Linked DNA regions of Homo sapiens: regions 2, 3, 4, 5, 6 and 7 are each reported to be linked to region 1. Evidence: microRNA targets listed by miRTarBase, many of them from high-throughput screens and not tested one by one. Region 1 holds a microRNA gene; each other region holds the end of a gene's coding sequence. Distances are from middle to middle.

The links. The annotated mature microRNA hsa-miR-4689 reads UUGAGGAGACAUGGUGGGGGCC and lies in region 1 at 2,633-2,654, opposite strand. An mRNA with a match to its seed (bases 2 to 7 or 8) in the 3' UTR can be bound and repressed. Matches are read on the target gene's strand: a 7mer-m8 pairs with bases 2 to 8, a 7mer-A1 pairs with bases 2 to 7 and ends in A, and an 8mer does both.
Region 2: the mRNA of KLHL11 is a reported target of hsa-miR-4689. Seed matches in the 3' UTR shown: 7mer-A1 at 1,087-1,093.
Region 3: miRTarBase lists ZNF507 as a target of hsa-miR-4689. Seed matches in the 3' UTR shown: 7mer-A1 at 1,895-1,901.
Region 4: miRTarBase lists TCEANC as a target of hsa-miR-4689. Seed matches in the 3' UTR shown: 7mer-A1 at 1,303-1,309.
Region 5: the mRNA of CELSR2 is a reported target of hsa-miR-4689. Seed matches in the 3' UTR shown: 7mer-m8 at 1,207-1,213 and 7mer-m8 at 2,111-2,117.
Region 6: miRTarBase lists WNT7B as a target of hsa-miR-4689. Seed matches in the 3' UTR shown: 7mer-m8 at 3,246-3,252.
Region 7: the mRNA of OXR1 is a reported target of hsa-miR-4689. Seed matches in the 3' UTR shown: 7mer-A1 at 1,215-1,221.

Annotation. Positions count from the first base shown.
Region 1 is chr1:5,860,079-5,864,172 of GRCh38, forward strand. It overlaps MIR4689 (microRNA 4689), which reads right to left and starts at 2,663; the gene lies at 2,594-2,663. NPHP4 (nephrocystin 4) reads right to left here. Exons shown (of 30, transcript NM_015102.5): 29 at 3,812-3,955; 30 at 2,733-3,327. The coding sequence ends at 3,187.
Region 2 is chr17:41,850,091-41,854,184 of GRCh38, forward strand. It overlaps KLHL11 (kelch like family member 11), which reads right to left. Exons shown (of 2, transcript NM_018143.3): 2 at 1-4,094. The coding sequence ends at 3,650. Among named protein-coding and RNA genes, the nearest start is that of KLHL11, 13 kb to the right of the region's middle.
Region 3 is chr19:32,382,681-32,386,774 of GRCh38, reverse strand. It overlaps ZNF507 (zinc finger protein 507), which reads right to left. Exons shown (of 7, transcript NM_001136156.2): 7 at 1-4,058. The coding sequence ends at 3,692. Among named protein-coding and RNA genes, the nearest start is that of DPY19L3-DT, 21 kb to the left of the region's middle.
Region 4 is chrX:13,662,784-13,666,783 of GRCh38, forward strand. It overlaps TCEANC (transcription elongation factor A N-terminal and central domain containing), which reads left to right. Exons shown (of 5, transcript NM_001297563.2): 5 at 1-2,626. The coding sequence ends at 781. LOC107985656 (a long non-coding RNA gene) reads left to right here and starts at 3,292. Exons shown (of 3, transcript XR_002958816.2): 1 at 3,292-3,687.
Region 5 is chr1:109,273,242-109,277,335 of GRCh38, forward strand. It overlaps CELSR2 (cadherin EGF LAG seven-pass G-type receptor 2), which reads left to right. Exons shown (of 34, transcript NM_001408.3): 32 at 1-95; 33 at 195-429; 34 at 781-2,510. The coding sequence ends at 808. Among named protein-coding and RNA genes, the nearest start is that of PSRC1, 7.9 kb to the right of the region's middle. RefSeq lists an enhancer at 1,011-3,042 and cis regulatory regions at 1,723-1,742, 1,727.
Region 6 is chr22:45,919,546-45,923,545 of GRCh38, forward strand. WNT7B (Wnt family member 7B) reads right to left here. Exons shown (of 4, transcript NM_058238.3): 4 at 821-3,790. The coding sequence ends at 3,311. Among named protein-coding and RNA genes, the nearest start is that of WNT7B, 56 kb to the right of the region's middle.
Region 7 is chr8:106,750,555-106,754,648 of GRCh38, forward strand. OXR1 (oxidation resistance 1) reads left to right here. Exons shown (of 17, transcript NM_001198533.2): 17 at 252-2,140. The coding sequence ends at 387. Among named protein-coding and RNA genes, the nearest start is that of ABRA, 18 kb to the right of the region's middle.

The DNA.
Region 1 (4,094 bases):
CCAGCACCGGAGTCCTCCCTGGCTCATCTCAGGCTTGGGCCTCATGTCTGAGCAGTTGAGACCCTGCCTCCCCTGCAGTACAATGCATCTGACCGAGACTTTCTGCAAGGGAAGGATAAAATGGTCCCGGTCACCCTCCCCAGCAAGACTGTAGGAACAAATGGGACATAATAGCTTCATAATCACATCCATCAACATTACTTTAAAGGCACCTATTAGGAGAAAGTCTGAGCCTCCTGCCCGCACGACTCAGCACCCATCACAGTGGCTCATTCCCCAGACCCTTAATGAGAGTGCAGCGGCGCTGCGGAAGCAGCAGGCTAACGGGGCAGGCCTTGCCCTCGCGTGGTACGACGGGGAACAGCAGGAGCAGGGCGAGAGCCAGACGGAGTGGACAGGGATGGGTGGGCTGCCCAGGTGGTGCCTGCAGTGACAAGACCCAGTAAATCACAGCTGCACCTTCTCCACACAGAGCTGCCAGGGAAGTGACCAGGCACCTGGGTTACTCGGAGGCTCTGGCCAGGTGACGCTGTGACCAGAGGCCTGGACATCCGACTCGAAGAGACGGCTCCGTATCATGACTGCACACGTTTGAGCCAGCATAGGGTGTGGACAAGCTGGGATCCCTGGCTGTTCAGCGTTTGCCCTGAGGCAGGCGTGCAAATTCAGAGGCCGCCTTCAAGAAAAAGCAACATGGAGAATCCCAACCCAGATGACAACAGGGACAAGCCAGAGAGATATCATTACTCCGCACAGGTACATGTTGAAAAGACACAGAAACACCTTAAGTGACTCCTTCCCCCCTGGAGTCCAGCCTCCACCTCACTCCTTCAGTCTTTCCAAGCCAGCTCTGGCGTGGACAGAGGCCAACCTAGGCAACCATAGGAAACGAACACAAGGATGCAAGCAGAGAAACGGGTCCAGCTTCCGGACAGTAACTTTTCAGAAGGAGCTATGTGCCTCACCCCAGCTTCCAGCTGACTGGAATGGAGCGGTGATGGCAGCGGCTGCAGCAGCCATCTCAGGATACAAGGTGGAAGCAACGTGGTAAGAACAGCACAATGGTAAGACAGAAAAAGACGGGAGCACAGTGATGGTGGAGCTCCACGCCAGCCCTACACCAGCTACCTGGATTTTTAAATGTGAGAGAAATTAATGGCCATCTTGTTTAAGACAGTGTTATTTTGGATTTTCAATCACTCACAGCTGAACAAAATATAGCCTCTTCTGTCCATTCTCCCATCATCTCCCTCCCAACTACTGCAGCAGCCTCTCATTTGCCTACATCTGGGCCCACTCCAATTAATTCTCCACATTACTGCCCCCATCTTACCCAAATACACCCATCCTTGCATAAAACCTTTCAAAGGCTTCCTGACGCTTTTTGATACAGATAAAAGTCCTCCTCATGGCCTGAAAGGACCTTGTTTTGCATCAGGGATGGCTTCTCAGCCTGGTGGCCTTCCTTAGGACTCTGGGCACACCATGCCGCTGGCCCCGGGCCTCAGCTCCCATGGCCCTCTGCCCAGGTCTCCCCTCCCCTATTCACCCACTCAGATCGACTCGTGGGAAGCCCCCGCCAACCTCCATCCTCCTGTGGGAGGCTGCACCTCTTCCTTCCCACTCCGGGCTGGCAACAGCTGAGTGTCCCAGGTACCATGGGCCTTCCCTATGTTCCTGAGCCTCTGAGAGGGTGGAGACCACAGCAGGCATGTGGTACCAGATGAAGGAGTGAGGGAGTAAACCAACGACCGCCATGGCCTCCAATGGATGTCTCCAGCAGCCCCTAGAAGGCAGACACTCTAAAGCAGGGAGAGTGCAGCTTTACAAACGCTGAAGGGACACGTCCACAGGAGGTTTTCTAGCCCATGGATGGATCTCCTTTGCTGCTGTGGTTTCCGCTTCTGCATGGACATCCTGCAAGCACAGGCCAGGCACTTTCTTGCAGTCTGTAGGCCCACCCAGCCTGCAGGGCCCACGAGGACTCTCCACCCCACAGGGCAGGGCTGGATGGAACCCACATGTGGCTTCCTGGACTCCCCGGAGCCTCTTCCATGAGGACTGAAGGACTGGACATCTTACAATTGTTCCCTTGCCTAGGACTCAGCCTTGGGGCCTGTGAGAAAATCCAGCTCCCTCAAAAGAAAACTGTGTCAGCCAGTCCTGTCCAGCTGGAGAGTCCGTGGGAAGGGAGGGCAGACTGTCTCGTGAGAAGCAGCACCAGGATACAAACACACTGCCCGAGGAGGCATCTCCACTCTCTCTCTGCCCCTGGCACAGACGCAGGAAAAAGCCACAGCTCTGACCTTCAGGGTCCAACTACAGTGCCAGTGAAATTTCTCTCTGAAGGATGGGGACTGCGTCAGGATCAGAGCATGCAGACGCAGCAGAGACCACCCACCGAGACTGATCTCTGCAAACGAGGACCGCACCTCACTGCAAGGACCAATGGGGCCACGTGCTCTCTGCAACCACCGCTGGGTGCAGCCCACCCTCCGCTCAGGGGCACAGGACCCTCCGCCCCTCGCACTTCTACCCGACTGCTGCCGTCTCAGAGCCGGGGTCTCAGCCCCCACCCAGGGCAGGCTTGAGCGGCCTCTCCATGAGGACACATGGCATGGGCTGCCTGACCGGCCCCCACCATGTCTCCTCAAGGAGAAACCGGGCTTGTGCTGTAGACAGGAAGCCTCTGACACTGCGCCAGCAGACACTCAAGAAAACTGCCAAGGGAAGACGTGTAAAAGTTTAGTATTTTGTTCAACAATTTAAAAAACAGATATAATACCAGCATAAAATATTGCATAGCAAATAATAGATTATGTTTGTACAAAATCCAGTAAGAAAAACATAATTTTCTCATTTAGGATGATTCATAAAATACATTTTGAGCAACAGCGATAACGAGGGTCCCACATGCGTAGATGGCAGCACCAGAGCCAGACCCACCACCACGGAGTTCGCGCTCACGGAACCCAGGCCTGCTGGGTGTCAGCAGCAGCTAAGCTGGATGCAGGTACTACAAAATGACCAGCGCTCGGTCTCTGCTTCCTCAGCCAAGTGCACAGGTCAGCCAGGTGGGCACTGAAGTGAAAGGCTGCAGAGAGGCGGGGAGGACAGCCTGCAGGGCAGGAGGGGCACAGACAGGCCCCAGCTGGGTGCCGCAGGAAGGACGTCACCCTCAAGCCCTCACTGGTAGATGACCTTCACGCAAAATGCCTCTTCGTTTTTGTCCTCATGGTCATTGATGTAGATCAGGATCTCCTCCTCACCCACTCTCTGACTAGGCGCAAACTGCAAGCCGATGGTGTAGGTCTCTCCACCCCCGACCTGGAAATAAGCATCCAAATCCCAGCATCCACCCCCGGGCTGTCCCACGCTCTCACCAGCAACCTCTCTGCATGGTCGTGTTTATTTCCAAGGGGAGCTGACAAGGCAGGGGAGCCCTGCGGGTGCATCCAAGGCCTGCCTTTGACTTCAGCGCCCGGTACAAGGATGGGAACCAGTGCTCAGCCAGTGTGACGCGTTACTTGGACTCGAAGGCACACTTATTTCCGAGACTGAGCTGTCTAACATTACCATGAAAAGCCCTGGGCACAACACCCTTTCCCACACTCAGGAGAAACTTTGCTAAATCTCCAGCTACTAAAGATACAACGGGCCCACCCAACTATGGGATGGTACCTGTCACCGCCCTGGGGCTTTTGGAAGACTGCTGGTGATTTGAGGAACTCGCTCCTAAATGCAGGCTAACTGCCCTCCATTCAGGTCCCCGGGTCTTCCCCTAGGAGTCCCAGGCACAGCCCCACCACACCTGGAAGGAGTCCTCTCTGAACCGCAGCAGCTCCGGGTGGTCGCTGTGCAGGTGGAATGTCCTCCGGGAGGGGTAGGGGTTGGTGTAGGTGATCCTCTTGTTGACACCCTTCCCTTCGCCCGCAGCCAACATGATCTCAAAGGCCTGTGGAGGGAGGGGACAGGGAGACGCTGCGGCCACTCACGGGAACAGCCACTGGCCCTTCCTCCAAGTATTCCCTGAGTCTCCTGTGCACCGTGCACGGGGACCCCCACAGAGATAAGACAGACGCTCTCTGGAGCTT
Region 2 (4,094 bases), not on the chromosome of region 1:
TTGTACTTAGAACCTTTCCAAATACTCTGGGAAGTTATTTCCAGTTTAGAATTTCAGAATGTCAGCCTTGAACAGATTTAAGCAAATCTGGTTTCTTTCCTTATTAACAAGTTAGTTAGGATATTTCAGAAACACAAGTTATTGATGTGAAATTACACATGTGAATTCAAAAATAAAAATTAGAAAATCAGGAAAACCTGCACACATCATCATGCAATGAAGGACTTACCCCTTCTTTTCAGCCATGGCCTAGGCTGCCTGCTAAGTTAAAAAACAACAGTTTCAATCAAGGTTTTAAAACCAGATTATGCCTAAATCTTATGAGTTATAATTTCTGTCACATGATGTGAAAAAAACACAACCCCACAAATGACTTGGTAATAATTATCTCAGAAGACAACTCTGAGAACAAAAAACAAAAAACACATCACACCCTTCCAGTTAAAAACTATTATCGTAGTGAGATACTAAATTATTTAAATACAATCAAGAAAACGAAGTTTGCTAGCACAGTCTGTTGGAGAGAAATGAGAACTTCATTTAGTGAGCTTCATTTAATGATTCTGTCTTACTTGCATAGACCTATCACAGCTAAGAATTAGTGCTTCTCAGAATCCAAATGGCTTTTACTAAAATAACTACAAAGAAATAGAAATTGAGAAAAAGGTAGTGGTGGGATGGGACAATATAATAATATATCCTTATATGTAGAAATAGACTTGCAGTTTCTCACGCCCACTCCAGTCTAAATTAAATGGATTTAAAGTTGATTTTCAACACATTTATTAAAAACTTTTCACCTAGGCAGGGATACTAATTTAAAAATTTCAAGTTCTTAGTATAGAGCCCAAGACCTACAACTTGCAGCAAATAGCCAAAATTTCTGGTTGTGCTTTTCTCTTTTGGTATTTGATCACTAACAAGAAGATTAACTATAATGGACTAGGGAAAAAAAAAATCACTGCACTTGGAATTTGACTTCTAGAATGGTATGACAAAATGTCTAAGAAGGTAAAGACAGTTCTTAAGAAACAGGATAAATCATTGGACAGGTGGCTCTTTGGGAGGCCAAGGTGGGAGGATTGCTTGAGGAAAGGAGCTTGAGACCAGCCTGGCCAATAAGGTGAGACCTCACATCTTAAAAAACCAAAACAACAACAAAAACAAGAAAACCACATTGTAAACTGTTAGGAATCCTTTATATTAACTGAGCATTAAGAGTAAATTTGAGGGCTGGGCATGGTGGCTCATGCCTGTAATCCCAGCGCTTTGAGAGGCTGAGGTGGGCGGATCACGAGGTCAGGAGTTCGAGACCAGCCTAACCAACATGGTGAAACCCCATCTCTATTAAAAATACAAAAATTAGCCGGGCGTGGTGGTACACACCTGCAATCCCAGCTACTCAGCAGGCTGAGGCAGGAGAATCACATGAACCCGGGAGGTGGAGGTTGCAGTGAGCTGAGACTGCGCAACTGCACTCCAGCCAGGGCGACAAAGCGTGACTGTTTCAAAAAAAAAAAAAAAAGTTATTTTGAGGCCGGGCGTGGTGGCTCACACCTAATCCTAGCACCCTGGGAGGCTGATACGGGTGGATCTCCTGAGCCCAGGAGTTGGAGACCAGCCTCGGCAACATGGAGAAACCCCATCTCTACCAAAAATACAAAAAAAAAATTAGCTGGGCGTGGTGGCGCGTGCCCATAGTCCCAGCTACTCCGTATGCTGAGGTGGCAGGATGGCTTGCATCCAGGAGGTGGAGGTTGTAGTGAGCCGAGATCATACCACTGTACTCCAACCTGGGTGACAAAGTGGGACCCCATCCCCTGGCCCAAAAAAAAAAAAAAGTCAATTTGAGTGCTAACTTTTATAAAGCTCAGGAGACATAAGATAATTCGAATAACGTATAAAACTAAATAAAAGATAGCTTCAGTGATCTTTTTAATTTTTATTTGAGACACCGTCTCTCTGTCACCCAAGGTAGAGTGGCATGATCACAGCTCATTTCAGCCTCAACCTTCCCAGGCTCTGGTGATCCTCCCACCTTGGCTTCAAGTAGGAAGGACTACAGGCACGTGCCAGCTACCACACTCAGCTAATTTTTCTACTTTTTGTAGAGACAGGATCTTGCTATGTTTCCCAGGCTGGTCTTGAACTCTTGGGCTCAAAATCTGCCCACCTCAGCCTCCTCCAAAGTGTTGGGATTACAGTCATGAGCCACCGTGCCCAGCCCATAAACCTTTAAAAGCCAAAATTATGTACCCAAATTTGGTATCCTAGGCTCAGGCAAAGTTTGAAAGTGTGGGGCAACTGGATAAAATATAACAATCAGAAATAATAAGGCTTCTCTTTAGCAACATTTCTCTAAATTGTGACTTCCTTCCCATTTTGGAAAAAAACAGTTTCTTGTAGAAAAGAATAATGGACTGGGCACGGTGGCTCATGCCTGTAATCCCAGCACTTTGGGAGGCTGAGGCGGGCGTATCACCTGAGGTCAGGAGTTCAAGACCAGCCTGGTCAACATGGTGAAACCCTGTCTCTACTAAAAGCACAAAAATTAGCCAGGCGTGATGGTGGGTACCTGTAATCCCAGCTACTCGGGATGCTGAGGCAAGAGAATCACTCGAACCTGGCAGGCAGAGGTTGCAGTGAGCCGAGATTGCACCACTGCACTCCAGCCTGGGCAACATGAGCAAAAAAAAAAAAAAAAAGAGAAAAGGAATAATGAAGATTCTATATAATATGCATTAGAGCAAAAATTAAAATGGAAGGCATTGAGTGTCGATTGTCATAGGCATTATTTACACTCATTAACATATCCTCAAATAATCCTGCAACTCCTGAAAAAAATGTTGAAAAAATTTTAAATGCCTTTGATTTCCCAGTCTACACTAATACTTTTCTTCTTAGAGAAACAAAGTTCACACATGTAACTTGCTCTGTATTTAGTCAATTAGCTAAAGATCTATACTTTTGCCAACTACCGTCACCTCAGATTGAAGGCTTAAAGTCTATAAACAGCTGCTAATGAAAAATATTCAAAAAATGCATGAGCCAGTAAAAAATTTCTCATCAGTCACATCTTCTAGGAAGGAAACTGGCATTTCTAGATAAACATAAGAAAATATCAATGCAAACATTCTCAAATTATCTTGCTGAAATATTGAGTGTTTTCATTCAAATTTCAGTCTCACTATTGCACATGCCTCCTGCAGATGAGGGCTCAATGCAGAAGTCAGATCTTGCCAAAACCAATCATTTAATAAAAAATGAAAAAGAATATCAAAGTAAATGTGCAAATAAAATTGGTGCTTAAAGCATGTTCAAAACGTAAGTCCTCAAGACAAAGGAGTCATAACTCGTTGGCAGGAAAACAGCTAAGCAACTACACCTGATTTTTCCACTTGTCCTTAATAAGATCTTATTTAGCTAGCACAAACAAACAAACCAAAGACAAAAATTGCAAGCTAACAAAATGACCATGTATTGAACTGAGTCTCCCATTCTTTAGTTTTTAACTCTATTTCCTTTATATGGGGTAATAATCAGTTCATGTAGAAAATAAGTTATCGACATACTTTTTTAAATAACAGCCTGGGTATCTTCAGCTTCACGAAACGGGTGTAACAGTTTTAATCGGCACGCTTGAGAGAACCTAGCATTCAATCTGAGAGCTTGGCACTCGCCTCATGTTCAGGGCGTGACGATGTATCTCTTGCATCTGTCTGATGCGGTCCTTCTGCCACATCAGGTTTTGAGGCATAGGGTATCTCTGTGTGCCATGCAAGTACCGGTATGGGATCCTCACGTGACAAGCAGTGGCTCTACAACGAGGTTGTGGCATAGGAGGAAGAAGCATCCACCTCTTCCTCTCCGCACAATATCGGTAGGCTTCTTTCCGATACTGTTTATCAATATCATCACTGTTTTTCCAGCCTCCTATAATGAAGACATCATCTTTGTAATAGCAAATGGCTGCTCCTTCGATGCTTAGGACTTCTGGAGGCAAGCTTTCAAGGATCTCATCAGACACTTGGCTGGCAATTTTTCTTACTGCCTCTTCGTTTTCTAAACAATAACTCTTGGGACAACATGATGCT
Region 3 (4,094 bases), not on the chromosome of region 1:
TTATTCTAACATTGTACAGTATTTCCAAAGGTAGTTAAAGAAGCACTACAGACCTTGCCTCACTGTTCTGAACAGATGAACTGCTCTCCCATGAACACAGTCCTAGAGTTTCCGCTTTAAGGCATGCAGCTTGATGTGCAGGATAATTTTACAAAATGCAAATCATCCTATTTTAATAAGATACAGTGTCAGAATTAACTGTAGTCTTTACATGTCAGTATTCCAGAAATTTTTATACTTTGGCTATAGAAGCAATGCCATAGTGTTACACAATACTTATTTCTTAAAAAAATACATGTATTCATGTTCATGAATATCAAACGCAAATTTCTATTAAATATATTTTATCGAATATTACTTAGAGCACCTTGCTGTACAATTTAAAAAGATTAAATAAGTGTCTATGAAAACTAAAAACACAATAAGTCTCAACAGAGAAGCCTGCTTGTCTTTGTCAAGCCAATTACAGCACGGGAAGGTGCAATGTAAACATGGATGCCCACCATTTACTTTGTGAGAAAAAAAACAGAAAATTATGAAGCCACCAGCAGCCACCTTCAATAGGAAGAAAGATCCAGAACAAAGGCTTCGGTCGGTGTCACAACATTGCACTATCTGGCCAAAGAACTTGGACTACCGATCAAATGGAATATTAGCATGATACTGTTGAACACTGGGACACCCGCCATATTCTGGATGATTAGAGAAAGGGAGAAAATGATAGAGCCCTGAAAAGTATTCTTTATAATGATCAGAATGCATCATCTTCCCCCCTCCCCACCTTTGCCATATGTAGTTTCTTTTCAAAGCTATTTTCACTATCACGTCTTAGTATTTTTTAAGTGTTCGGAGCAGAAAACAAATACTATGAGCTCTGTCTAATAAGAAGTCAATACCAATAAATAACATGTTATTCTATGAAGGAATTCCTACTGAATTTTTTTTTTGGGGGGGGAGGTAAACAGAGGACCTCATCTGTCACCCCGGTTGGAGTGCAATGGTGCCATCACGGCTCACTGCAAGCCTCTATCTCCCAGGCTCAAGTGATCCTCCCACCTTAACCTCCCAAGTAGCTGGTGCTACAGGCACGTGCCAACTATGCCTGGCTAATTTTTAATTTCTTGTAGAGACAGGGTCTCCCCGTGTTGCCCAGGCTGGTCTTAAACTTCTGGACTCAAGCAGTCCTCCAGCCTTGGCCTTCTAAAGTATTGGGATTACAGGTGTGAGCCACTATGCCCAGGCTACTGATTATTTTAATAGCTATCTCTTCTACAGTTAGAATTGCATAATCTTCATTATTACTTTTAGAAAACTCAATTGTTCTTGGTAGACACATTGTTAACTTAAGGCTTGCCACAAAATGATAATGGGAAGGGAAAGAACCTCCTTGATATATGCTTCCTCCTATCGGCCAGGAGAAAGCTTTTAAGGACAATTCTAAGGCCAGAATCAGATGAAACTTTAAAGGCTTTGAACTTCTGGGTTAGTTTTTTCCCCATGAGGTGGGGAAATTTTAAATCCATGATTCCAGGTGGAAAATTTAAGTAACAATCAATGGAATTAGTTTAAAGAAATAAAGGTAATTTAAAAATTCACATCATTGAAATTTTGGGGATGCTTTTCATTATTATTTTCTAAATATGATATAAAACTAAAGCCAAGGAAATTTTCTAAGACAAAATCCTTCTAAGGTTGTTGATTTTCAGAACAACAGATTTTTATAAAGAAATACTGAGTCATTGTACCAGCAATGAAAAAACTGACTTACAATATGAGTGGCAACAGTATGGGTAATAATAATGAAATCATTTTAAATGTTCTATTTGAATTTGAAATTAAAATGTTTCAATTCCGAAAAAAGGAGAAAATGAATATAAGTCCACATACAGTGGATTTGAGGAATATAGTATATATAAATCCATTTCATATTTTTAAAAACCACGTATCAGAAATGGATTAACTTTCATAAATAAATTAAAGCTACCTAAATAAAAAAGCTGCAAAGTTACAATCATTTATGTTTGTTTAAATATCACCAAAATGAGATTAGAAAGAAAGAAAAAAAAATCAGAAAATGTTGCAAGATGCCTGGCCCCACTTAAATAATTCCTAATAATAATTTTATAAATATTAATCCAATCATACCTGGACTTTAGGAACAGAATACTTCTTAAAACGTGCCTACAGCGTATCCCATTCGAAAACCTTTACAGTGTTCCAAGTTGATCGGTCACAGCCTCATCCAGGTGTTAGAAATCAATATTCAGATATTCGGAAATAGCACCGTGAGGATGGTGCACAGAAGAGCGCACCGACCTTTTCACTTGTAGGCAGAATTTACTTAAACAAAACAATGCATAAATGAGTAATCAGAACTACAAAAACAAAAACACCCTGTTTTCTTCACTCCTTGAAATAATTAAAATACAAAATGTGTAATTAATAAGATTACATCTATTTGATGGTGAGTTTTAATGCTAAAGCACTTTGTGTTGGTTTTCCATATGTCCTATCGCACTCTAACAAAATAGAATTTCCAGATAGGAAGAATCCTATAGACTTGCCAAATGCTATTTGTTATTAAAATTTTTACAAACAACCTGAATTTCTGCTATATTTTAGTCACATTTGGTTATATTCCTCTTCTGCTAAATATAACTAAATTAATATACCCCAGGAAAGAAAAGCTCAACACAGCAGTACTCATTTTCAGGAGCTTTTAAATTTCACCCCTCATCCCCTAAGGGATTTTTGGAAATAGTTCAAACTATTTCCAATGCCGGATGATCAAATGTAAATTTTCATACATTGTTTCTTTCACACACTTTCAGATAACAAGTGTGGTTTCATTTAGCAGAGTATTAGAAGGTCTACGTACTATGGAGAAAGTATGCCAAGTTCTGACAGACACTGAAAAGAACCTCTGAGAACACGGAAGACGATTTAGCATTACTACGAATTGAGATCTGGTTTGAGTCTGGTGAGAATTCACCTGTTTCGTCCTCTGCTCACAAGAAATTCATCGTAAATTTAAGACAATACTTCTTGAATGCCTATTTACAATCTAGCTTTGAATTTAGAGATCTTTCCTTTCTTTTTTAAGGAGTAAAGGAACATGTCCTAGATTGAGTATGATTAATTTCTATCAATTTAGGTATTTCAGTAGATCATTTCAAAGCCCTCTAATTATGTTTCCTTGTTGACTCTGTTGGTGACACTGAAAAAACCCCCTCCCAGAACTGCCTCCCATTTCTCACTGGAGGCCTCACAGTCTGCATTTGACAAGTGAGAAGAAAACTAAGCTCTGCTTAAGACTGTGACCCTTTTATGACTTTTAGAATAGTTCCTGAAAAGCCCTTTCTTAACTCTTGCTGGCATTTCTACACTCTAATAAGCTTTTATTAATAAATACACTCGACACTAAGAAGGGGTGACAGAGGGTTAATACAGGATTACACCTCTACTTCCTCTTTGACCCACTCCCCCTCACTCAAAATATTTAAATATCATTACTGCTTGTCCATTTGGAATTCCTTTTATTACAAGTTTGGTTCCAAAGTCACATCTGTCATTTCCTCAAAAATCACATCAACGACTTCTTCTGTGGCAGGAAGTTGTCTGACAGCGTAAAGGTGAAACTGTGGTGAAGGAATCCTCTTCTACTGCTTTCCTGCTCGAGTCATTATTCCACCTAATTTGTGTTTAGAGCTGTATTGTGGTCCTTATTCAGGATGATGTTTACAATTTCACCCTCGTGCTCTTTCATATGATCCAAGAGGTTTTCTTTGCTGGTTGATTCAAAACCACAAATACAACAGCAGAAGAGTAAAACGCAGTACTCCATGCTAGGAGGGGCCAGACTGGAGATTTTTTCTAAACTATATGAGGTATTACTTGTAGGGCTCAGTTTCTCATTCTCGTTGGTACCCAGAACTTCACTGGGAGTCTGGGACATCAGTTCTGAAGATGACACTGCATTTTCTGAACTTCCAGTGACGGGATCTGCACTCTCTTCACTGCTCTTTAATTGAGTCTTTCCAGGGGATTTCCCCAGAACTCTTAAAAACAAAACAAACACAGCACACCGTGAGGAG
Region 4 (4,000 bases), not on the chromosome of region 1:
ATTTCCTGTGAGGGGTAATAAAGAAGAAAATTCAGGACCTTCTCATGACCCAAGTCAGAATGAGACACTGGGCATCTGCAGCTCGAATTCTCTGTCTTCCCAAGACGTTGCAAAACTCAGTGAAATGATTGTGCCTGAAAATAGAGCCATTCAATTGAAACCTAAGGAAGAGCATTTTGGGGATGGTGACCCTGAATCCACTGGCAAGAGATCGAGTGAGTTGCTGGATCCCACAACACCCATGAGAACTAAATGCATAGAGCTTCTTTACGCAGCTTTAACTAGTTCTTCCACAGATCAACCCAAAGCTGATTTGTGGCAAAACTTTGCAAGAGAAATTGAAGAGCATGTTTTTACCCTTTATTCAAAGAACATCAAAAAATATAAAACTTGCATCAGAAGCAAAGTTGCCAATTTGAAGAACCCCAGAAATTCTCATTTACAACAAAACTTGCTCTCTGGGACCACGTCTCCACGAGAATTTGCTGAAATGACTGTCATGGAGATGGCAAATAAGGAACTGAAGCAGTTGAGAGCCTCCTACACGGAATCTTGTATCCAGGAACATTACCTTCCCCAAGTAATTGATGGCACACAGACAAATAAAATAAAATGCAGACGCTGTGAGAAATACAATTGCAAAGTCACTGTAATTGACAGAGGAACACTTTTCCTTCCCAGCTGGGTGCGGAATTCAAACCCAGATGAACAAATGATGACTTACGTAATTTGTAACGAATGTGGGGAGCAGTGGTACCATAGCAAGTGGGTGTGCTGGTAACTGTAAATCAGTGTTCTCTTAACAGATAACCGGAGTGATACCTTTTATTTGTACAACCCTTTTGTGCTTTTAAAAATCTTATACACACTACTCTCTAAAACAGAAAAAGGAGGAAAGAAAGTCGTTAGCTGAAGCTGCCACCACCATCCCTAAAAGTTACAGTTTGGGGAGAGGGAGTGGATGACTATTTATATTGTGCCTTGTGGCCATTTAGTACCTTACTGTAGACAGAGTGTGGGTGAGAACAGCCCAGCATAAACTGGGAGACTGTGGGAAATGCATTCCCAGGCCTCACACCATTGAATCCGAATCTGCATTTTGACAGGATCCCCAGGTAATCTTCCAGGATAGGATAGTTTGAGAAGTGCTACTTTAGCAATAGGCCTGTGGCTCTCAGCAGTGGCTGCATATTAAAATCATCTGGGAAGCTTTGAAAACCCACTGGTGCTGAGACCCCACCCTAGAACAATTCAGTTGGAACCTATGAGATGGGACCCAGGCATCAACATTTCTTTTTTCATTCCTCAAGTTATTTTAAGATGCAGTCAGAGTTGAGAACTACTCAGAAATAGGCTCTCATTTGATCCTTTTTACAGCTCTAAGACAAGAATGTTATTCCAGGCACTTCACGAATGAGGAAACAGGTCCACAGAGGTGTGGTGACATGTCCAAGTGACACAACCATAAATAGTACCAATTCTGACAGATCCCAGATTTTCTCCCTCCTGACTCACTGAGACTGGCTCAATATCGACTTCTGAGAAATGTATTCCTGGAGGTCGGGGACAAAATGAAGAATGTGTTTAAACTCCAACATTGGGTGACTAGATCTTCATTCTTTTCCCCTCTCTTTTCTCATTTATAGGTCTCCCTTCAACCACAAAAGTCACCCTGGAACTCATCCCGCAGTTAGAATTTTGTTTGGAGCCCTCTTGCTTAGTTGAAGGAGTTTCGTAGTTGTTTTTTGTTTTTGTTTTTGTTTTTGTTTTTTCCCCCTGTGAACAGGTTTTTCGGGGGTATGTAAACTCTAGGATGTTTAGTTTCTGATGTCAGGAGTCTTCATGTTCTCAAGGACAAGTGTCCTTGAGATGGACATTAATGGTCATTAGTCTGTCAGAGGAAGCCCATCACTTTAGCCTTTGAATGTAGTAACAGACGTTTATCTAATAAATGAATTGAAGATAAAATTACCTCTTTGAGGCCTTTGCAAACAGTGTTTAACCAGTTTATATAATTGTTTGACTACAACACGCCTTCTATGTGATTATGGCTGATTTTTTTTCCTTAAAAAACTCATGGAATGTTCACCGTTTTATAGTTTTAAAAAGTTTACTTTGGCGGTCTCTACAAACCTACCATTTCACTTTCTCACCAGTTCTTTTCTCCTAACTCTCTTCCTTTGTTGGAGCTCTGAAGGCCTAACTGTGTGTACACTTTACCTGCCTGACAGAATTCTCCAAAACATGCATAAAAGTAAAATATGTTCGTATTTTCAAATAATTTGGAAGAGTCGGCTCAATGCCATCAAGTGTAAAATCTATTTTGATATACTTGCTCTCCGTGTCTTCCCAGGGCTGCTTTTTGTGATGCAACATGTTTAGTCCTTAACTTGCAAGGTCATCTAAAACTTGAAGTTTCACAAAGTGTGGTTTCATATGACTTGGAATAATCTGAAAAACTATTCAGTGGTTACGAAAGAGCACAGCACATAAAAACCAAATTTGATTAGTTCAAGTCGGTGTTTATGTTTTGCTTTGGGGGTTTGTGTGTATGTGTGTAGTTTTTATTTATATTGGAATTTGGCAAACTAAATGTTCAGACAAATAAAAGTAATTAAAATGGAAATTTCCTTACTCTCCAAAATATAAAAACCTTCATGGTCTGGCCGGGTGCGGTGGCTCATGCTTGTAATCCCAGCATTTTGGGAGGCCGAGGCGGGCGGATTGCCTGAGGTCAGGAGTTCAAGACCAGCCTGGCCAATATGGTGAAACCCCGTCTCTACTAAAAATACAAAAATTAGCTGTGCATGATGGCGGGTGCCTGTAATCCCAGCTACTCGGGAGGCTGAGGCCGGAGAATCACTTGAACCCAGAAGGCAGAGGTTGCGGTGAGCCAAGATCACGCCATTGCATTCCAGCCTGGGCAACGAGAGAAACTCCACCTCAAGCAAACAAACAAAAAAACCAATCTGCGTGGTCTTCCTCATTTCATTTCATCTTTATTCGTGAGTTTTGCAACTTGAGATAGGAAAATAGTAATCTGTGTGTTTTTCTTTTGGTTAATGAGACAGCATTACATTTTCTGCCTATAGGTAATTCTTTCAGATCCTATGTCCTTTCCCCTAAAAGGAAAGGACTTTCTTTAAAATTGACTGCAGGGTAAAGATTTTTTTTTTTTTTTTTTTTTTTTTTTTTTTTTTTTTTTTTTTAGACAGGTTCTCACTCTGTCATCAAGGCTGGAGTGCAGTGGCGCCATCTCAGCTCACTGCAGCCTCAACCTCCCGGGCTCAAGCAATCCTCCAACCTCAGCATCCCCACTCCCTTGAGTAGCTGGGACTGCAGGCACGTGCCACCATGCCCAGCTAATTTTTGTATTTTTTGTAGAGACAGGGTTTCTTCATGTTGCCAGGCTGGTTTCAAACTCCTGGGCTCAAGCGATCCTCCCAAAGTGTTCGGCCTCCCAAAGTGCTGGTATTATAGGCATGAGTTACCGTGCCTGGCCAAGACTCTTTAATTTAAAATCGCTTTTTCAGAAACAGCAAATGGAAGACCCTGAGACAGGAGACTGCCTGATACACGCAAGTTCCAGCAAGAGTCCACGGCAGCTAAGTCACAGTGAGCAAGGGGAACAAGGATGAGAGATGCAGTCAAAGAGGCCATCGTGAGGGCTCTTGTCGGTCGGCCATGGTAAGGATTTGGGGGCGTTTCTTAAAACATGATGGGAAGCCACTGAAGCTGGGGAGTTTGTGGTGATGAGATTTAACACCCTTTAGGAAGGATCACTCTGGCTGTTATATTGAATTAGAAGGGAAGGAAGCAAGGATGCATGCAGGGACAACAGGTGACCCTTGGCAGTGATCCAAATGTCAAATAACTGGCTTCAAGCAAGAGTACACAGAGTCTGGGCTCCCCGAATCCTTATAGTCAGCAAAGTCCTTGACAACTTTGCAAATGGATATTTCATAAAATACACTAAATCCCAAGTTCCCTACCCATGGCC
Region 5 (4,094 bases), 100 Mb from region 1:
GGCCCCTGAGGAGCGGCTGCGGGAGAATGGAGATGCCCTGTCTCGAGAGGGGTCCCTAGGCCCCCTTCCAGGCTCTTCTGCCCAGCCTCACAAAGGTGAGTGGGGCACCCCCAGCTGCCGAGCTCCCCTAGTCAGCAGCCTCATACCTCACATTCTCCTGTGGCCGCACCTCACAGCCCCGCCCCGGCCCACAGGCATCCTTAAGAAGAAGTGTCTGCCCACCATCAGCGAGAAGAGCAGCCTCCTGCGGCTCCCCCTGGAGCAATGCACAGGGTCTTCCCGGGGCTCCTCCGCTAGTGAGGGCAGCCGGGGAGGCCCCCCTCCCCGCCCACCGCCCCGGCAGAGCCTCCAGGAGCAGCTGAACGGGGTCATGCCCATCGCCATGAGCATCAAGGCAGGCACGGTGGATGAGGACTCGTCAGGCTCCGAGTGAGTGTGGCCGGGTGGGCGGGACGGGGTGCAGCCCCTCGGAGGCCTCACCTGGGCCCAGAGCTGCCTCCGGGCCTCCCCAGGTGACTCTGGATGGCATTTGGAGGACAAATGGGCAGAACTGGCCCAGCTCCCTTACTATGCCGTGCCCACAAACCATGGTGCCTTGCGGGGAGGGCCACCCCTCCTAGGCTCTACGCGGCGCAGCCCAGCCTAGGGCAGAGTGCGGGAGGATGGGGAGCTGGGGGTGCTTTCCTGTTTCCTTCGTCTGGTGAAAGCTTTCACTCTCTCCTCTGTTTCAACTAACCCTCTGTCTGCCTTTTCTGCCACTTTCCTTTCCTGCCTCTCCAGATTTCTCTTCTTTAACTTCCTGCATTAACCCTGGGCCGTGGTTCCTACGCCCGAGGCTCCCTTCCCTTCCCCAGCCGCACTCATGCCCTGCTCCTGTCTTGTGCTTTATCCTGCCCCGCTCCCCATCGCCTGCCCGCAGCAGCGACGAAACGTCCATCTGAGGAGCCTGGGCCTTGCCGGGAGGGGTACTCACCCCACCTAAGGCCATCTAGTGCCAACTCCCCCCCCACCATTCCCCTCACTGCACTTTGGACCCCTGGGGCCAACATCTCCAAGACAAAGTTTTTCAGAAAAGAGGAAAAAAAGAATTTAAAAAAGGATCTCCACTCTTCATGACTTCAGGGATTCATTTTTTTTATACGCTGGAAATTGACTCCCCTTTCCCTTCCCAAAGAGGATAGGACCTCCCAGGATGCTTCCCAGCCTCTCCTCAGTTTCCCATCTGCTGTGCCTCTGGGAGGAGAGGGACTCCTGGGGGGCCTGCCCCTCATACGCCATCACCAAAAGGAAAGGACAAAGCCACACGCAGCCAGGGCTTCACACCCTTCAGGCTGCACCCGGGCAGGCCTCAGAACGGTGAGGGGCCAGGGCAAAGGGTGTGCCTCGTCCTGCCCGCACTGCCTCTCCCAGGAACTGGAAAAGCCCTGTCCGGTGAGGGGGCAGAAGGACTCAGCGCCCCTGGACCCCCAAATGCTGCATGAACACATTTTCAGGGGAGCCTGTGCCCCCAGGCGGGGGTCGGGCAGCCCCAGCCCCTCTCCTTTTCCTGGACTCTGGCCGTGCGCGGCAGCCCAGGTGTTTGCTCAGTTGCTGACCCAAAAGTGCTTCATTTTTCGTGCCCGCCCCGCGCCCCGGGCAGGCCAGTCATGTGTTAAGTTGCGCTTCTTTGCTGTGATGTGGGTGGGGGAGGAAGAGTAAACACAGTGCTGGCTCGGCTGCCCTGAGGGTGCTCAATCAAGCACAGGTTTCAAGTCTGGGTTCTGGTGTCCACTCACCCACCCCACCCCCCAAAATCAGACAAATGCTACTTTGTCTAACCTGCTGTGGCCTCTGAGACATGTTCTATTTTTAACCCCTTCTTGGAATTGGCTCTCTTCTTCAAAGGACCAGGTCCTGTTCCTCTTTCTCCCCGACTCCACCCCAGCTCCCTGTGAAGAGAGAGTTAATATATTTGTTTTATTTATTTGCTTTTTGTGTTGGGATGGGTTCGTGTCCAGTCCCGGGGGTCTGATATGGCCATCACAGGCTGGGTGTTCCCAGCAGCCCTGGCTTGGGGGCTTGACGCCCTTCCCCTTGCCCCAGGCCATCATCTCCCCACCTCTCCTCCCCTCTCCTCAGTTTTGCCGACTGCTTTTCATCTGAGTCACCATTTACTCCAAGCATGTATTCCAGACTTGTCACTGACTTTCCTTCTGGAGCAGGTGGCTAGAAAAAGAGGCTGTGGGCAGGAAAGAAAGGCTCCTGTTTCTCATTTGTGAGGCCAGCCTCTGGCTTTTCTGCCGTGGATTCTCCCCCGTCTTCTCCCCTCAGCAATTCCTGCAAAGGGTTAAAAATTTAACTGGTTTTTACTACTGATGACTTGATTTAAAAAAAATACAAAGATGCTGGATGCTAACTTGGTACTAACCATCAGATTGTACAGTTTGGTTGTTGCTGTAAATAGGGTAGCGTTTTGTTGTTGTTGTTTTTTCATGCCCCATACTACTGAATAAACTAGTTCTGTGCGGGTACAGCACTGTCACTGTCCGCTTCTGTGTGGTACCCTGTCCTCCCACAGGGAGGAAGGTCTGGTCTCTGGAAAACAGAAGAGCCGGCAGGGCCCAGAAGGCCCCACCGGGAGGTCGGGAGACTCAGACACCACTGGCTGATAAGCCTGTCCCTCTGCCCATGTCCATGACACTGCTCCCAAATAGCTGGATCAGCACAGAGCCCATTTCCTGGCATTTCCAAGGAAGACATGGTGGGCGGGCAGGAAGGTGTCCTTTTCACCAGGACGGAAAGGACTTCTACGGTGGGAGAGGCTGCACGGGGCAGGCAGCCTTCCAGCCCAGCCCCTCAGGGCTGAGTCCTAGACAGGGATGAGTTTTCTGGGGCAGAATTCAAGAAGCAGGGAGGGCTGCATTGAGAGGCTGGTTGGAATTGAATGGTGGTCAGTGACTCAGTGCCTCCTAACTATACTGCTCAGGGTTGTTTTTTGTTTTTTTTTTCCCATTGGAAAATGAAGCAGCTACTCATACTGAAGCCAAGTGTGTGCTTTGCAACATTACTTCTCAGCCTAAGTTTTGTTTTTGTGTATATATATGATATATATTTAAAAGTATATATGCTTTTTAAATTTAATAGAGGCGGGGTCTCACTATGTTGATCAGGCTGGTCTTGAATTCCTAGGCTCAAGTGATCCTCCCGCCTTGGCCTCCCAAACTGGGGTCACAGATATGAGCTACCGCATCCGGCCTAGTTCCAAGTTTTGTGTTTGTCGAAGTTCCATTCAATAAACTAGAAAGGCAGCTGGGTGCGGTGGCTCATGCCTGTAATCCCAGCACTTTGGGAGGCCGAGGTGGACAGATCACCTGAGATCAGGAGTTTGAGACTAGCCTGGGCAACATGGTGAAACTCTGTCTCTACTAAAAATACAAAAAAATTAGCTGGGTGCGGTGGTACATGCCTGTAATCGCAGCTACTCCAGGGGCTGAGACAGGAGAATCACTTGAACCTGGGAGGTGGAGATTGCAGTGAGCTGAGATCGTGCCACTGCACTCCAGCCTGGGTGACAGAGCGAGGCTCCATCTCAAAACAAACAAAAAAACTAGAAAGGGAGTTAACCTGGGGACAATATAGGGTGATGATTAAGAACACAAACCCTAGCTGGGCAGTGGTTCACGCCTGTAATCCCAATACTTTGGGAGGCCAAGGCATGTGGATCACTTGAGGCCAGGAGTTAAGAGACCAGCCTGGCCAACATGGTGAAACCCATATCTACAAAAAATACAAAAAAGCCAGCTGTGGTGGTGCATGCCTGTAGTCCCAGCTACTAGGGAGGCTGAGGTGGGAGGATGGCTCAAACCCAGGAAGTAGAGGCTGCAGTGAGCCAAGATCGCACCACTGCACTCCAGCCTGGGTAATAGAGCCAGACCTTGTCTCAAAAAAAAAAAAAAAAGGACACAAACCCTAGAACCAGACTGAATGACTTAATCTTTCTGAGCCTTAAGTTTCTCTGCCCACAAAATGAGGATGATGATAAAAGCATCCACCTAATTGAGCTTTTATGAGGATTAAGTGAGTTAACACATGTAGAGTGCTTGGAAGAGTTCATA
Region 6 (4,000 bases), not on the chromosome of region 1:
TGGGATCTGGGTCTGGGGCCAGTTCCGTGGGTGCCCGGGCTGGGCACAGCAAGGATGGGGTCTGTTTGATCAGCAGTTCCACCCGATGCCAGGCTGCTGGGACAGCGGGCAGTGGCCAAACCGGCCCTGCCACATGCCTCTGGCCCTCGGGGAAGTGCTGTGCATCGCCGTGTGCACGGCTCTCGCAGGATGCAGGCTGGGAGGCCCTGCCATGGCCAGGCTCTGGGGAGGAGCAGCGGAGCCTGTGGCCAGCTGCAGGCTGTTGAGCTTCTGGGGGCCTCATGCCACCTTCCCAGGCCTGGTGAGAGCAAGGCAGTCCCCAGGGCTGTGGAGCCAAAATCCACCAGACCCAGCTGGATGGACCTACAGGGACCCTGAAAGCCAGACCCCACCCTGGTCAGAGGGAAGCAGAGGCACAGGGCCCAGTGGGGCCTGCTGTCCCTTCTTCTTACAGCAGCTCTGGCCCAGCCCCCAGTAACCAGGTGCCAGGCCCATGGCCCTCCTGTCCCCGCAGCCTGAGCCTGGTGCTGTCCAGCAAGGCCTCAGGGTCTGTGTCCAGTGCCCCAGCTCCCCTGGCTGGGTGGGGACAGCCCAAAGGTGCCTGGAGGCAGGTAGGCATGACTTGATCTCAGGGGTGGGCTCTGGGCAAGGGTGTCTGGTGTGAGGATGGGAGGGACGGCCCACAGAGGGGCAGGAGGAAGCCAGACAGCTGGGGGCACATGAAGGCCTCGGGGGCTCGTCCTGGGTGGGCAGAGCATGTGTCCCCACCGGTGGGGCCGCAGCTGCAGGTACATCGCATGGGGATTCCACACACACTCACTTTTCCGATTCCAGCTTTTATTGGGCCGAGCACTCCCCTCCAGGGGAGGCTGCCGTCAGAAGGGTGGGGACGCAGCACCTTGGTCGCCATCACCCCCATCTGGGCCACCCTGACCCCCGTCTCACCCAGGCAAAGGGCCTGTTGCTGGCAGACTTTGGGGTGGGCAGGGGCTCAGTGGGGTGCCCGGCAGCCAAGGGACAGTGCGAGTGTCTCGGTGGCATCAGGGGCCCCAAGGGTCTGTTGAAGCAGGAGGAGCCTGGTTCGGGAGATGGGGGATGGGATGGGGGGTGGGTATGGGGAATAGGGATGAGGGATGGGATGGGGGATGGGGTCAGGGATGGGATGGGGGATGGGATGAGGGATGAGATGAGGGATGGGATGGGATGGGGGATGAGGGATGGGGGCCGCAGCCATCCCCCTCTCCGGTACCCAGTGTAGGTCACAATAATTTAAAGACACTATAGACATTTCGACGCTATATAACAACATAAGTTAACCAGGTTCCTTGCAGAGGCTGCCGGGCCTATGGACTCAGGTGTGTTCTGGGACTTGGGGAAGGTAAGGGGATGGGGCCAGGCTGAGGGTGGGGCATTCACGGTGGCCCGGAGACTCAGAGCGTCCAGGCATGGTTAGAGGCACATGGGCTGGACCACAGGGCCAGAGCCCAGGAGGGACCCACTTGCCCCAGGCTGAGCCCAGGCCCTTGGCTTGTCGGCTGCTCAAGAACACATTCCTACGGGCTTCCAAGAGAACACACCCTAAATGGGGGCCAGGCCGTGGGCAGTGGGGGTGCACCAGGAGCCAGCTGCAGACCATCCTCTCTGGCCTCGGACAAGTTCCTCCCTCTGTCACTCATGCTCCTCAGAGACAGGGGTGGGAGCATCCAGAAAGGACATGTCCAGCTCTGGATCCAGATTTTCTCAGCACTGGGGTCAGGGTAAAAGGACCAGGACAGGGCTAGGCGAAGCCTCAAAGGCACCGAGGGGAGTGCAGGCCCCAATGAGGCTGTCAGGGGGTGGAGGGAGCAGCCAAGTGCCTCAAGGCATGGGAGCTACCTACTGCCACCCCGGGCATCCTGATGTGTTCTCCCAGGTCCAGAGCCCCAGGCTGGGCAGGAGAAAGGTGGAAGCCTCCAGTCACAGCTGCAGGGTCTCTGGTAGGTCCTTGTGCCACTCTGGGCCTCAGAGTTCCCATCTGTCAAGTGGGACAAACATCCCTGACCACTCACCACCTGCCTGACCCCCGCGGCAGCACTGTCCCAGGGGTCAGGCTGGCTCCAGGGGGAAGGGGGTCTCTGTAAACTGGAGGTGCCAGGCCGGGAGGGTGACAGGATGAGGGAGGGAACGAAGGACTCCTGGAACCTGACGTGGGTGATATTTTGATTTGCTTGATATTATTTTCTTTTCTTTTTTTGAGACAGAGTCGTGCTCTGTCACCCAAGTTGGAATACAGTGGCACAATCTTGGCTCATTGCAACCTCCACCTCCCGGGTTCAAGCAAGTGTCCTGTCTCAGCCTCCTGAGTAGCTGGGATTACAGGTGCACGCCACCACGCCCAGCTAATTTTTGTATTTTTAGTAGAGACAGGGTTTCACCACGTTGGCCAGGCTGGTCTCGAACTCCTGACCTCAGGTGATCCACCTGCCTCGGTCTCCCAAAGTGCTGGGATTACAGGTGTGAGCCACCGCGCCCAGCCATTGATAGGATTTTCAAAAGAAGGAAAGACGGCATGGAGGAGCCTGTCCATGGCTCTCCTCCAAGGCCCGGTCAGGGCTGTGTGGTCTGAAGAGCCCCTGCCCAGCTCACTTCTAGGACCTGCAGGCACCGCGTGGTCCCCATCAACCCCAGGCTGCCTCAGCTCTGCAGGGGCAGAGGGCCGGCCAGGTGGGGCCGGGAAAGGAAACAGAGGGTGTCTAGGGGATGGGCTGACACAGAGTACGGAGTTAGGACTGGCTATGTGTTAGTGCCGAGAATCCTCTTCTGATACTAAGAAAACATAAATAATTTGTGTCAACATCTGTCCCCACCGCCCCAGGGCCCAGCGGCAGACCCAGCCTGGGAACTGGTCTGGAGAGGCCAGCCGGCGTAGCTTTTCTGTGTCCATGCCGCCAGGTGGGGCTGGGGACGCTCAGTCTCCTCATCACTTTGCTCTCTGGGATACAGGTGTGTCCTGGACGTTCATTTTCCCAGAGAGAAGAAAGAGAACTTGCCGGGCCCCGTCGGGGAGCACCAAGACCCCTGGCCTTGCTCTCTGGGTGGGTCACGGGTGCTGTTCTGCCGCAGGAGGTGATGGGAGGAGGTGGCAGGAAGGAGCCCCAGGGAGGCGGGCAGAGGGCGTGGGCCCCGGCCGGTGCCCTCCTGCACCTGGAGCTCCCCGCTTCTGCACCCGTCTATGTCTGCTGCTGGCAGCACCAAGGCAGGGAAGGTGAGGAGTGGATGTGCAAAATGCCGCCGGGTTCCAGGGTGCCCGCGGCCGCCTCCGGGCCTGGCCTCACTTGCAGGTGAAGACCTCGGTGCGCTCGCTGCAGGTGTTGCACTTGACGAAGCAGCACCAGTGGAATTTGCAGTTGCACTGCCACACCTTGGTGTACTGGTGGGTGTTGTAGCCTCGGCCGCAGCACATGGTGTCACAGCCGTCCGCGCCGGGCGACGTGCGGTTGCAGAGACGGCCCTGCGTGCCCACGCTGCCCGTGGCCGCGTCCTCCTCGCAGTAGTTGGGCGACTTCTCAATGTACACCAGGTCTGTCTCCATGGGCTTCTGATAGCTGCGCAGCTGTTTGATGCGCAGGAAGGTGGGCTGCCGCAGACGGCTGGCCCGCACCACCTCCACCTGCACGGCCGCGTTGTACTTCTCCTTCAGCAGGTGGCCCACCTCTCGGAACTTGGGCAGCGTGGTCCAGCAGGTTTTGGTGGTGCAGGAGCCAGACACGCCGTGGCACTTGCACTCCAGCTGCATCCGGTCCTCTAGAACCTGCGGGTGACAGGGAAGCTGCTCGGCACGGCATGGCCCAAGCTGGGCCCCTCTAGGTTCCCCTACCCCTGCCTCTAGCCCAGCCCTGGAGCCCGCTCCTCCCCTTGGGCTGTGTGACCACAGGTGAGTGTCTCTCCCTCTCTGACCCTCAGCCTCCTCACCTATTACATGGGGCTGCTAACAATAGGTCTCCACTGCATAGGAGGTTGT
Region 7 (4,094 bases), not on the chromosome of region 1:
CCCGACCTCAGGTGATCCGCTGGCCTCGGCCTCCCAAAGTGCTGGGATTACAGGCATGAGCCACCACACCCGGCCCATAAATAATTTTTTAATGGAATAGGAGTAAAACAAAATTGTGTCAGTGTGGAAAGGAGTAGGGAAGGATTTGAGAAAATTAATAACTTTAGGGTTGTTAGGTATTCAAAGTCTCATTTAAATTGTTTTATAACTTAAGGCATAAATATTAACAGATTATTATTTATGTATTGCAGAGGAGAATTTGCGCTTTGGCTTGATGGAGATCTCTACCATGGAAGAAGCCATTCTTGTAAAACGTTTGGGAATCGTACACTTTCTAAGAAGGAAGATTTCTTTATCCAAGATATTGAAATCTGGGCTTTTGAATAAATAAAATGCTCTCTGTCTTAGCAGGAGAATGGCCCAAACCTGACATGGACAAGCATTGTTTGGAAAGTTCAAGAAGCAATACAGTGTAACATGTCACTTGTGCTTTAAAATTAGTCTGTATCACCATTTATTACAGTTATAATTTTGGAGTTTATTTTTCAAATCATGTTCTTGTCCCAGAGTTCTTTAGGTTAACACTAGGGACTGCGTCCATGTACTAGTATAACAGCTTGGGTTTGTTAGAATTTGGGCAACATTTTGATTATAATGACAACTTCATTTTCACATGTTACTCAGTTCCCTAATAGGATGGTGCTCTTTTGTTGAACCTGTATTGATTTTTTTTTTTTTAACTATATTGATTCGTTTACTAGAACAGTCTAATTGGGGCATTGAGGAAATGAAGACTGGATACTTCTGTATCTGTGAAGTTGGCACAGGTAACATTTGGACATGTTCATCTTATTCTTAGGAAGGAAAAAATCACTTGCCAAAATAATACATACTTCATAGACCACTGAGTTCTAGTTTTTATTCACACTACAACATTCTCTTTAACGATGTTGCAGGTATTCTCAATTTCCTTTTAAGAAAAATGAAATGTGAGGAGAATTCTGGTTGTAATAGATGACAGTACATATGATCTGCAGGTTTGGGCATATGCTTTCATCATTAAATTATCTGATAAAGTTACAAGTCACAAAGGAGAATGAGAACTTAATGATTCTATTGGATTTAATATATTAGCAAGAAAACATACTATTTACATATGTGTAGCTTAGTAAGGCATTAACATAAGTACAAAAACTATGAAACAGATGCATATTTCCTCAACATACTGTGTCAGGTATACTGTTTTATAATTTGGTTGTTTTAGCCTTATTGCACACCAACTCCCAAAATATAGGTTACTCTTGTTCAAAAGGAAAAAAAAAATTGTGATTTTCTTTGAGTGGTATATGTTATTAATTACCATTAGCATTTGCTCTTATAAAGGGCAATGATTATAGTAGACAATATTGTAACTCAGTAGACTTGTTGAATATGCAAACTTACTGTCAAGTGACCTCAAAAAAAAAATGAAAAGATAGAATACACTAGTAGTTCTTATCCTCTTTTGTAGGAAACCAATAATAGCCATTGTGGCAATAATTCATCAGTTGATTTTAAAGCTTCATGTTATGCAAAAAAGAATCCTGCTGTTATACATGTGACAGTGACTTTGTGCTGAAATTTCAGCTATTCCAGATAAACATTGTATATCTTGTAAATTAATGTTTAAAGGTGTAGTTTTGTTCTTACAGAAAGTGTTGATTGCCAGGTTGCTTATAGCACTTTAAGTTATTCTAAAAATGAAATTATAAGCCAAATATTTGGCTTAAGTAGATTTAGTTGTATAGCACTTACATATTTAGTTCTTTTGAAAGTTTAGATAATTATTTAAAGAAAGCATAATGCTAATGGAAAAGAAAATCTGATGTTCTATTATAATATGCTATTGCTGAATATGAATAGAAATACAGGGCATCATTTCCTTGTCTCATTATAAGTTAGTAACAATATATAGATTAAATGTTTACAATATAGGGAATTGTAAATAAATATATCAGTTTTTTTCCCCTTCGGTCTTCCACAGCAGTATTATTGTCTTTGTGGAGTTGACTAATGATAATTTAAAAATCCTGTAATGGATTTCTACTAAAATAAGGTCATAGTGGCATATACCAAATAAAATCAAATACAGAAATACAAATGAGTTTGGATTTATTGAATACTCATTTTCTTAACAAGTCTTTGATTAAGCCTACTACTATCTTTTTTTTTTTAATGCTTCTAATAGCTTACATTGTGGTGGTGGTGGTCATGGTGTTAGGAGTAATAGTGATAGGAGAATGCATTCAATTAGAGGGAGCATTACATTTTTTAAAATGGAGATGGGAGAAGGCACTTGACACATGGGAAAGTGTAAGTTATTTGATATTTTTAAAGTACATTGTTTTCATTTTGGGTGGAGAATGCATAACAAGCTAAGCCCCTTATCATAAACAGTTATGTGTGTGCAATGCCAAGAAATTTTGATATTTTGTATCCCGTAGGTTCAGTTAACATTTGAGAGGAGGAATGACATGATCAGGTGTATACTTTAGGAAAATATCTGTGAAAAATAGATGAGTAGAAGGAACAACTAGAGACAAGGGGAAAACAAGCCTTTTATAAAGTCCAGAAAAAAAATGATTAGGCCCGAATAAGAACAGTGGTAATGGTAATAAGGAAGCATGGATTTGGAAAGGATTTATGAGTTAGGATGAACAGGAGTTGATTATTGATTGGATGTCAGAAAAAGTTAAAGATAGCTCCCAGGATTTTGATTTAAGAGTTTAGTTGTATTATTTATCAAGATGGGCAAGGTACATAGAGGAAAAACAAAAAAAAGCAGGTGGCAAAATGAAGTTAGTCGTGGACTTTATGAGAGTATGATGTGAGAAACAGGAGAATAAACTTTTTGGGAGTAGGACATTTTATATACTATTCTGAAAGATGAACTTTAAAAGTCAACAAAAAACAATAAAACTCTTTCACTTTTTATATGCAAACAAATATGAAATTTATGTATTACCATTTGTAATACCATTGAAAATATCAGATATATAACAAAGTGAAGACCAAAATAGGAAGGATATACCATATTCATTACTGGCAGACAATATTGATTAAAAGATATCAGTTCTCTTAAATTATATTGACAGTGAAAATCTCACCCAGGCTTATTTTTTGGAAATTAAACTGATTGTAGAGTTTATATGGAAATGTAAAATCAAAGAATAGCTAAGCCATCATGGAAGAATTGAGTGTCTGGTCTTCAGTATCAGATAATCATGATTTATTAGAAAGCTGAGTAAGAAAGACAATATATTGGTCAAAAGTTCAGAAAGAAACTGATTTCTGAAGAAGGTGATACTGCTGTCTGCTCAGTAAAGAAGACAGTCTGTTCAATAAAAGATGGTGGATTAGGCCGGGTGTGGTGGCTCATGCCTGTAATCCCAGCACTTTGGGAGGCCAGGACAGGTGGATCACGAGGTCAGGAGATCGAGACCATCCTGGGTAACACGGTGAAACCCCGTCTGTACTAAAAATACAAAAAACTAACCGGGTGTGGTGGCGAACGCCTGTAGTCCCAGCTACTCGAGAGGCTGAGGCAGGAGAATGGCATGAACCTGGGAGGTGGAGCTTGCAGTGAGCAGAGATCGTGCCACTGCACTCCAGCCTGGGCGACTGAGCAAGACTCCGTCTCAAAAAAAAAAAAAAAAAGATGGTAGATTAATTGGATATCTATATGGAACAAAAAGTCTTATCTCACACCACAAACAATTAGAGATTGAAAAATAATTGTGAAAAGCAAAACAATAAAGACATTAGTTTATATAGGAGAATATCTTCATGACCTTAGGGTAAGCATATATTTCTTTAATGGGACACAAAAAGCACTAAATATAAAGGAAAAAAATAAATTATGCTACATTAAAACTTTAAGCACTTCATCAAAAGACATCATTGAAAGTAAGAAGGTGTCCAATAAGAGTGAAAGCTGTTGTTTTCTCCAACTTTTATTTTTGGTTTGAGGGTACATGTGAAGGTTGGTTTCATAGGTAGACACGTGTCACAGGGGTTTGTTGTACATACTATTTCATCACCCAGGTATTAAGCTT